Linked DNA regions of Homo sapiens. The protein of the gene in region 2 purifies or fractionates together with the protein of the main gene of each other region. This does not show direct contact. Each region holds a gene or a part of one and is shown on either strand. Other genes may lie near its edges. The genes, in order: KLRG2 and PCDHA7.

Evidence for each region.
Region 1: the proteins of PCDHA7 (region 2) and KLRG2 purify together in Homo sapiens (affinity purification with mass spectrometry; one large-scale study listed by BioGRID and IntAct). This does not show direct contact.

What each region holds. Positions count from the first base shown.
Region 1 is NC_000007.14:139,452,439-139,456,255, forward strand, and holds the end of KLRG2 (killer cell lectin-like receptor subfamily G member 2), read right to left. Parts: intron 1,777-3,817; coding exon 1,673-1,776; intron 1,270-1,672; coding exon 1,149-1,269; 3' UTR 252-1,148; downstream 1-251.
Region 2 is NC_000005.10:140,832,741-140,836,657, forward strand, and holds the start of PCDHA7 (protocadherin alpha-7 isoform 1 precursor), read left to right. Parts: upstream 1-1,528; 5' UTR 1,529-1,643; coding exon 1,644-3,917. UniProt on the Homo sapiens protein: Calcium-dependent cell-adhesion protein involved in cells self-recognition and non-self discrimination. Thereby, it is involved in the establishment and maintenance of specific neuronal connections in the brain.

The DNA.
Region 1 (3,817 bases), on a different chromosome or scaffold from region 2:
TAAAGTATAATAATACTAATGAAAAATACAGTGTGAGAAATTTCTCCCATCTAGGACTCTCCATCCCATTCTCCCAGACGGCCCATTACTGGTTCAAACGCACCAATAAGGATTTCTGTTTGGGAGGGATCTGGGTGCATGGTCTGACTTTTGAGGGAAGGCTGGCTTGCAAGGGCCAGTTGAGTGCGTGCTCAGCACCAAGCCAACACGCAGGCCCAGGCTCCTGCTGTTTGGAGGTCTAGCTGGACTCAAGGAACTACACAACTCTGTCAGCCACATCCTCCAGCCTGAAGGTCTTCACTGCACCCCAGCATGGAGACATCTTCAGGTTGGTCGTCTCTGCAGCTGTGGGTAGAAGAGCTGCCTGGAACGTGCCTGCATTTCTCTGATTTCCTTTTTCACTCAGACTCCTCAGCTTCCACCTACCAAGCTGGGGTGCTCTCCTGGCTTCTCCTGCCAGGTGGCCCTGTCCTCTCTGCCTTGTCTCACCCTTGGGCATCAGCGTGCCAGGGGCTGGCCAGCCCACATGCGGGATCTCCACCCAGAACCTTCCTGTCTGCCAACCCTTTGCCAACTCTCAGGGTGGGGAAGGAAAACCTTGCTCTCCCCTCTTTCCAGGGCTGACCGCTCCTTTTCCTTGGTTAATTTTCCAGAGGCTGCCGGTAGGCTGTGTCCGATGTACACCCAGCTGCCTGAAGTAGAATTCACAGCAATGACGTTATCCCTGCCAAGTCCCACTGCCACTGAACAACGGCAGACTCATTTCCATGAGCCGGAATGAGAACCCAGATTGGAATCCGCTGTGGTTGTTAACCCTGTCTTTTTCCTCTAGGGGGAAATTGTCATTTTAATGAAACCAAGGCACAGAAATGCTAAACAACCATCCCAATGTCATCAAACCGATCATCCACAGAAGCTGGAGACTAATATTGGCACTCAGGCCTGAGGCCATAGAAAATCTCCTTTCCCTCGGATGCATCTTCCTGGGTTGAAGTCCAGCTCCTAGGCTCGCTCATGTGGCCCCCTTGAGCAGAGCATGAAGACCTGGATAACTGGGTCCAGGAAGAGGCTGCCCAAGCTCTCAACTGGCCTCCCCTGTAGGGGGTGCTGCATCTGCCTGGCAGGCTGAGGACCAGGCAGAGCCCAGATCACTGGGTCCCCTTGGCACAGACCCAGGGTCTTGGAGTGCTGCAGTTTGCAGCCACCAGCGTGCCTTCCTCCAGGGCCCCACAGTTGATATCCAGATTGTCCTCGCCGTCCTCAGGGAGTCTGGGAAAGGATGGGAGGGGAAAGAGGAGAGGTGTTTAGGGTGCCGGGGCCTTGCTTCCCAGCCAGACCCTCCAGCGTGTGTGCCTGTCACCTCTACCGGCCTGGGCACTGAGTGAGTCACTGCACTGGTCAGCCACGTGGCACTGGATGAATCCCCAAACCTCCCTGGGCAGCTGACCCCGCATCTGTAAAATGGGGGTGACAACCCTGCTTGGGTGAACGTGCTGGGAACCCAAATAAAGAGTGAAGCGACAGGGTCTAATCAGGCACCAGGCCGCGAGCATGGGCGTGGGCTGCTTTCCAAGTGGCATTCCAGGCTAGGGGAGCAGCAAGGAGGTGGAGTCTGGGGAGAAATGGAGGATCCAGAACAGCAGAGGAGGGAGAAAAGCCCGTGGTCACTCACAGCTGGGGCGGGAGTGGGGCCTCGTCGATCCAGTGCCAGCCCTGGGGGCCTCGCCAGGCCCCCACCCAGGAGTGCCTGGAGACTGGGTATCTGCCCAGGAAGTCCTGAGGGAGAAAAGTAAGCTGGTCACTCCCCTGGACACTGGCGTGGCTTGCCTGGGGCGTACGGATTCCCTGGGGCTTCCACAGGATCCCAGCTGGCCAATCCAGAAGGATCTGCTCAAGCCAGCACTTGCAGAACAAAAAAACCTTGAAAGCTGGATTGGATGCCTGCTGGGTGCCAGGTTCTGTGCTCAGGGCTGGGGGCCAAAATGAGGGTGACCCCGTCTCAGCCAAAGGGATGTGAACGCCAAACACCACTAAGTGATGCTCAGTGGGCATTGAGTGGGCAAAGAAACAAGGAAGCTCAGAAAGCGAGGGAGGTGGTCAGGCACGGTGGCTCATGCCTGTAATCCCAGCACATTGGGAGGCCGAGGCTGGCAGATTACCTGAGGCCAGGAGTTCGAGACCGGCCTGTCCAACATAGTGAAACCCCGTTTCTATTAAAAAAAAAAAAATTAGCTGGGCATGGTGGCGGGCGCCTGTAATCCCAGCTACTTGGGAGGCTGAAACAGGAGAATCGCTTGAGCCCAGGAGACAGAGGTTGCAGTAAGCCGAGATTGCGCCACTGCATTCCAGCCTGGGCTGACAAGAGGGAAATTCTATCTCAAAATAATAATAATAATAATAATAATAATAATAATAATAATAATAATAACACACGCAGATGTGCAGGAACAACAAAAACCAAAGTAAGTGTGCTGGAGAGGTACTAGAGGAGACTTTTTTCTTTTAAATATTTGCCCTCAATGTCACACTATTTTTAACAATGAATTAAAGCAAAAAAGACAATGTTTTAAAGTATATATTTAAGATTTTTTTTTTTTTGAGATGGAGCCTTGCTCTGTCACCCAGGCTGGAGTGCAGTGGCACGATCCTGGCTCACTGCAGCCTCCGCCTCTCAGGTTCAACCGATTCTCCCGCCTCAGCCTCCTGAGAGGCTGGAACTACAGGCATGCACCACCACACCCAGGTAATTTTCGTATTTTTAGTAGGGAAGGGTTTTGCCGTGTTGGCCTAGGCTGGTCTTGAGCTCCTGGCCTCAAGTGATCTGTCCATTTTAGCCTCCCAAAGTGTAGAATTAGTGGTGTGAGCCACTGTACCCGGCCAAGATTTTTTTTTTTTTTTTTTGAGACAGAGTCTCGCTCTGTTGCCCAGGCTGGAGTGCAGTGGCGCGATCTCGGCTCACTGCAAGCTCTGTCTCCTGGGTTCACGCCATTCTCCTGCCTCAGCCTCCCGAGTAGCTGGGACTACAGGCACCCGCCACCATGCCTGGCTAATTTTTTGTATTTTTAGTAGAGATGGGGTTTCACCGTGTTAGCCAAGATGGTCTCGATCTCCTGACCTCGTGATCCGCCTGCCTCGGCCTCTCAAAGTGCTGGGATTACAGGCGTGAGCCACCGCGCCCGGCCAAGATTTTTTAACTTGGAAAAAAAAGTTTAAATCTTTTAAGTCCCAGGGTGGGGACGTGGTGGAGGGGGCAGTGATGCCGGCACGGCCCGCATCAGCTTGTTCTTTCTGAAATGTCGTTTGGTGCTATGTGACAAGAGCAGCACCACCACTCCTGCTCAAATGGGTGATTTCACTGAGAAATAAATCCAAGAATATAAAGGGAAAAAAATGAACTTATCTAAAGATAACACGGTGCTATTTGTGAAGAAAAACTGGAAACTCCCCAAACGCTCAGCAATCAAGAAATAACAAGGTAAATTATAGGATGTCAACATGATGGAAAATTATAGTGCTATTAAAAATGACAAGTGTATAGAAAATGTCATTATGCAGGAAAATGTAAATATGAAATCATGCCATGTAAAAAAAAAAAGACTACACTAGCAAGTACATATCACTCACAACAATGTCAAGAAGCACATATTCACACTGAGGCAGGTTAGGAGCAGAGCGGTATAAATGAATTTCGCATATGCTCAGTTCTTCTTCCCTAAGAAAATGGTTTAAGTCAACAAAGACAAGCCCTGGGAATTAGAGTGATGATTGTCCTGTTGCTGCCACCTCCTCCATCCTTCAGAACTGATTTAAAGGTGGC
Region 2 (3,917 bases):
CGATGATAGTAAAAGCAAGAATATTGTAAGAGGTGCTAGAAAGGTACATCATAGTGTTATTGGAATTGGAAAAAAATCTTTGCCTTTTTCCCTTGTTGAAGGAGACCGTGAAGAGTCATGATGTTTTACTGGTTATAAAATGGAAAGAGTTTTCCCTGGGAGAATATGGAGACTAACAGGTATTCATGAGAAGAGAGTAACTTAAGTGAGTATACAGAAAATTCCAAATGTACCTAGAAATGAGGAATAGTCCACTTTGGGTAAAGCACATGGTTCCCATAAGAGAGAGTGTGATATAAAGCAAGAAAAGTAATATGAGAAAAACCTTTTGTATAACTTTGAGTACTAGACGAGTAATTTTGACACTCTTCAAAGTCATTTGAAAGCTGTCAAAAAGTGTGAAGCAATACGAATAAAAAGTATTAACGGAAGATGACTGCAAGGATTAAATGAAGGAGAATGAAATAGGAATGGACAGGTTACACAATAAGAAGCTACTGCAATACACCAGGAGAGCAGCAATTATAAAAACTTATTTAGGAAAGCATCTGAATACAGACATAATTATTTTACATGCCATTGGGAACATTGGAGTGAAACATTCCAGAAAACGAACACAGTAAGGTAGATCCAAAAAGGATGAAATACCTCAAGACTTGATCAAAGGGCTGCTGTATGTGAGATGGCTGAGCACTGAAATTTATCTAATAAAATAAACTTACATTTTAAAAGAAATAATACAAATCATATTTGAGATTGTAAAAATAGGCATATATTCATAACACACAAGTGTTCGAAAGGATAGAATGAGGAAACAAATATAAAATGATGAACTCCTGAAACAGTATATATAGATTCTGCTAAAGCAAAAAATTCAGAATACTTCCTCCTCAAAAAGTTCACATGATACAAATTCTTCCCCTTCAAAGATTCCCCAAACCTTCTCTTATTTTGTTTTCCCAAGAGAAGTGTCTGGATAGTTGCTAATGTTTCTTGCCTCCTAAAAAGAAAACACACACACACACACCGCTTTCTAAGTTTCTCTTTCATCAATCAGTAGATTCTTGAGATCCTGGGTCCCTAAAAGAGTACAGGATTTTTCTTAACAAGCGATACTGAATCAAGAATATGAAGTTTCCTGGGATCTAGATCAAAGGAATTTAAACTTGCAGTTGTTTAAATTCATGTTGTCACTTAGGTTTCTATCTTTATTTAAAACTGTGTGAAAAAAAAGTTTTTCTAAGGCATGAGGAAGCTACAGTTCTGGTAACACTGAGTATTCAAAAGCCATCAGTCGCCTAAGAATGCTTCTAACAATCATGAGAAATGCTATTTTAACCTTTAACAACAATGAAGAAAAAAATTCAGAGTTTGAAATAAAACTTTTCATCTGATTAATAGTTTGTAATGGTTTGTAATTCTTACTTACATGATGGCCACATGATGTCGCTCTTTACCGCAAATTCTTTCGTAATCAGCAAAAGGAAGTCATTCCTTTTCGCACTGGAAAGACGCTCCACTCTCTTTCACTCTTTGGATGCACAACAATGGCCACACATCGAGATTGAAATGAAGGGATAAAAACATTCCTATAAATTCGAAGGCAAGTTTTGCTGACTAGAAAAACAAGCCAATAATTTGAAATGGTGTGCCCGAATGGATACGACCCAGGGGGCCGACATCTACTGCTGTTTATTATAATTCTAGCAGCTTGGGAGGCAGGGAGAGGCCAGCTCCACTACTCGGTCCCCGAGGAGGCTAAACATGGCAACTTCGTGGGCCGCATCGCGCAGGACCTGGGGCTGGAGCTGGCGGAGCTGGTGCCGCGCCTGTTCCGGGCGGTGTGCAAATTCCGTGGGGATCTTCTGGAGGTAAATCTGCAGAATGGCATTTTGTTTGTGAATTCTCGGATCGACCGCGAGGAGCTGTGCGGGCGGAGCGCGGAGTGCAGCATCCACCTGGAGGTGATCGTGGAAAGGCCGCTGCAGGTTTTCCATGTGGACGTGGAGGTGAAGGACATTAACGACAACCCTCCGGTGTTCCCAGCGACACAAAGGAATCTGTTCATCGCGGAATCCAGGCCGCTTGACTCTCGGTTTCCACTAGAGGGCGCGTCCGATGCAGATATCGGGGAGAACGCCCTGCTCACTTACAGACTGAGCCCCAATGAGTATTTCTTCCTGGACGTGCCAACCAGCAACCAGCAGGTAAAACCTCTTGGACTTGTATTACGGAAACTTTTAGACAGAGAAGAAACTCCGGAGCTTCATTTATTGCTCACGGCCACCGATGGAGGCAAACCCGAGCTGACTGGCACCGTTCAATTACTCATCACGGTACTGGACAACAATGACAATGCCCCAGTGTTCGACAGAACCCTGTATACGGTGAAATTACCAGAAAACGTTTCTATCGGAACGCTGGTGATTCACCCCAATGCCTCAGATTTAGACGAAGGCTTGAATGGGGATATTATTTACTCCTTCTCCAGTGATGTTTCTCCAGATATAAAATCCAAGTTCCACATGGACCCCTTAAGTGGGGCAATCACAGTGATAGGACATATGGATTTTGAAGAAAGTAGAGCACACAAGATCCCAGTCGAGGCTGTCGATAAAGGCTTCCCACCCCTGGCTGGTCATTGTACAGTTCTTGTGGAAGTTGTGGATGTAAATGACAATGCTCCACAGTTGACTCTCACTTCCCTGTCTCTCCCTATTCCAGAGGACGCCCAACCAGGTACCGTCATCACATTGATTAGCGTGTTTGACCGAGATTTTGGAGTCAACGGACAGGTTACCTGCTCCCTGACGCCCCGCGTTCCCTTCAAGTTGGTGTCCACCTTCAAGAATTACTATTCATTGGTGCTGGACAGCGCTCTGGACCGCGAGAGTGTGTCCGCCTATGAGCTGGTGGTTACCGCGCGGGACGGGGGCTCGCCTTCTCTGTGGGCCACTGCTAGCGTGTCCGTGGAGGTGGCCGACGTGAACGACAACGCCCCGGCGTTCGCGCAGCCCGAGTATACGGTGTTCGTGAAGGAGAACAACCCGCCGGGCTGCCACATCTTCACTGTGTCGGCGGGGGACGCGGACGCGCAGAAGAACGCGCTGGTGTCCTACTCGCTGGTGGAGCTGCGGGTGGGCGAGCGCGCGCTGTCGAGCTACGTGTCAGTGCACGCGGAGAGCGGCAAGGTGTACGCGCTGCAGCCGTTGGACCACGAGGAGCTGGAGCTGTTGCAGTTCCAGGTGAGCGCGCGCGATGCGGGCGTGCCGCCTCTGGGCAGCAACGTGACGCTGCAGGTGTTCGTGCTGGACGAGAACGACAACGCGCCGGCACTGCTGGCGCCTCGGGTGGGTGGCACTGGTGGCGCAGTGAGAGAGCTTGTGCCGCGGTCTGTGGGCGCGGGCCATGTGGTGGCGAAGGTACGTGCAGTTGACGCTGACTCAGGCTACAACGCGTGGCTTTCGTATGAGTTGCAACCGGTGGCGGCCGGTGCGAGCATCCCGTTCCGCGTGGGGCTGTACACTGGTGAGATCAGCACGACACGAGCCCTAGATGAGACGGACGCACCGCGCCACCGCCTTCTGGTGCTTGTGAAGGACCACGGGGAGCCCTCGCTGACAGCCACAGCCACCGTGCTGGTGTCGCTGGTGGAAAGCGGCCAGGCACCAAAGGCGTCGTCGCGGGCATCGTTGGGCATTGCAGGCCCAGAGACCGAGCTGGTGGATGTCAACGTGTACCTGATCATCGCCATCTGCGCGGTGTCCAGTCTGTTGGTGCTTACCCTGCTGCTGTACACGGCGTTGCGGTGCTCAGCGCCGTCCTCTGAGGGCGCATGTAGTTTGGTAAAGCCCACTCTGGTGTGCTCCAGCGCGGTGGGGAGCTGGTCATTCTCCCAGCAGAGGCGGCAGAGGGTG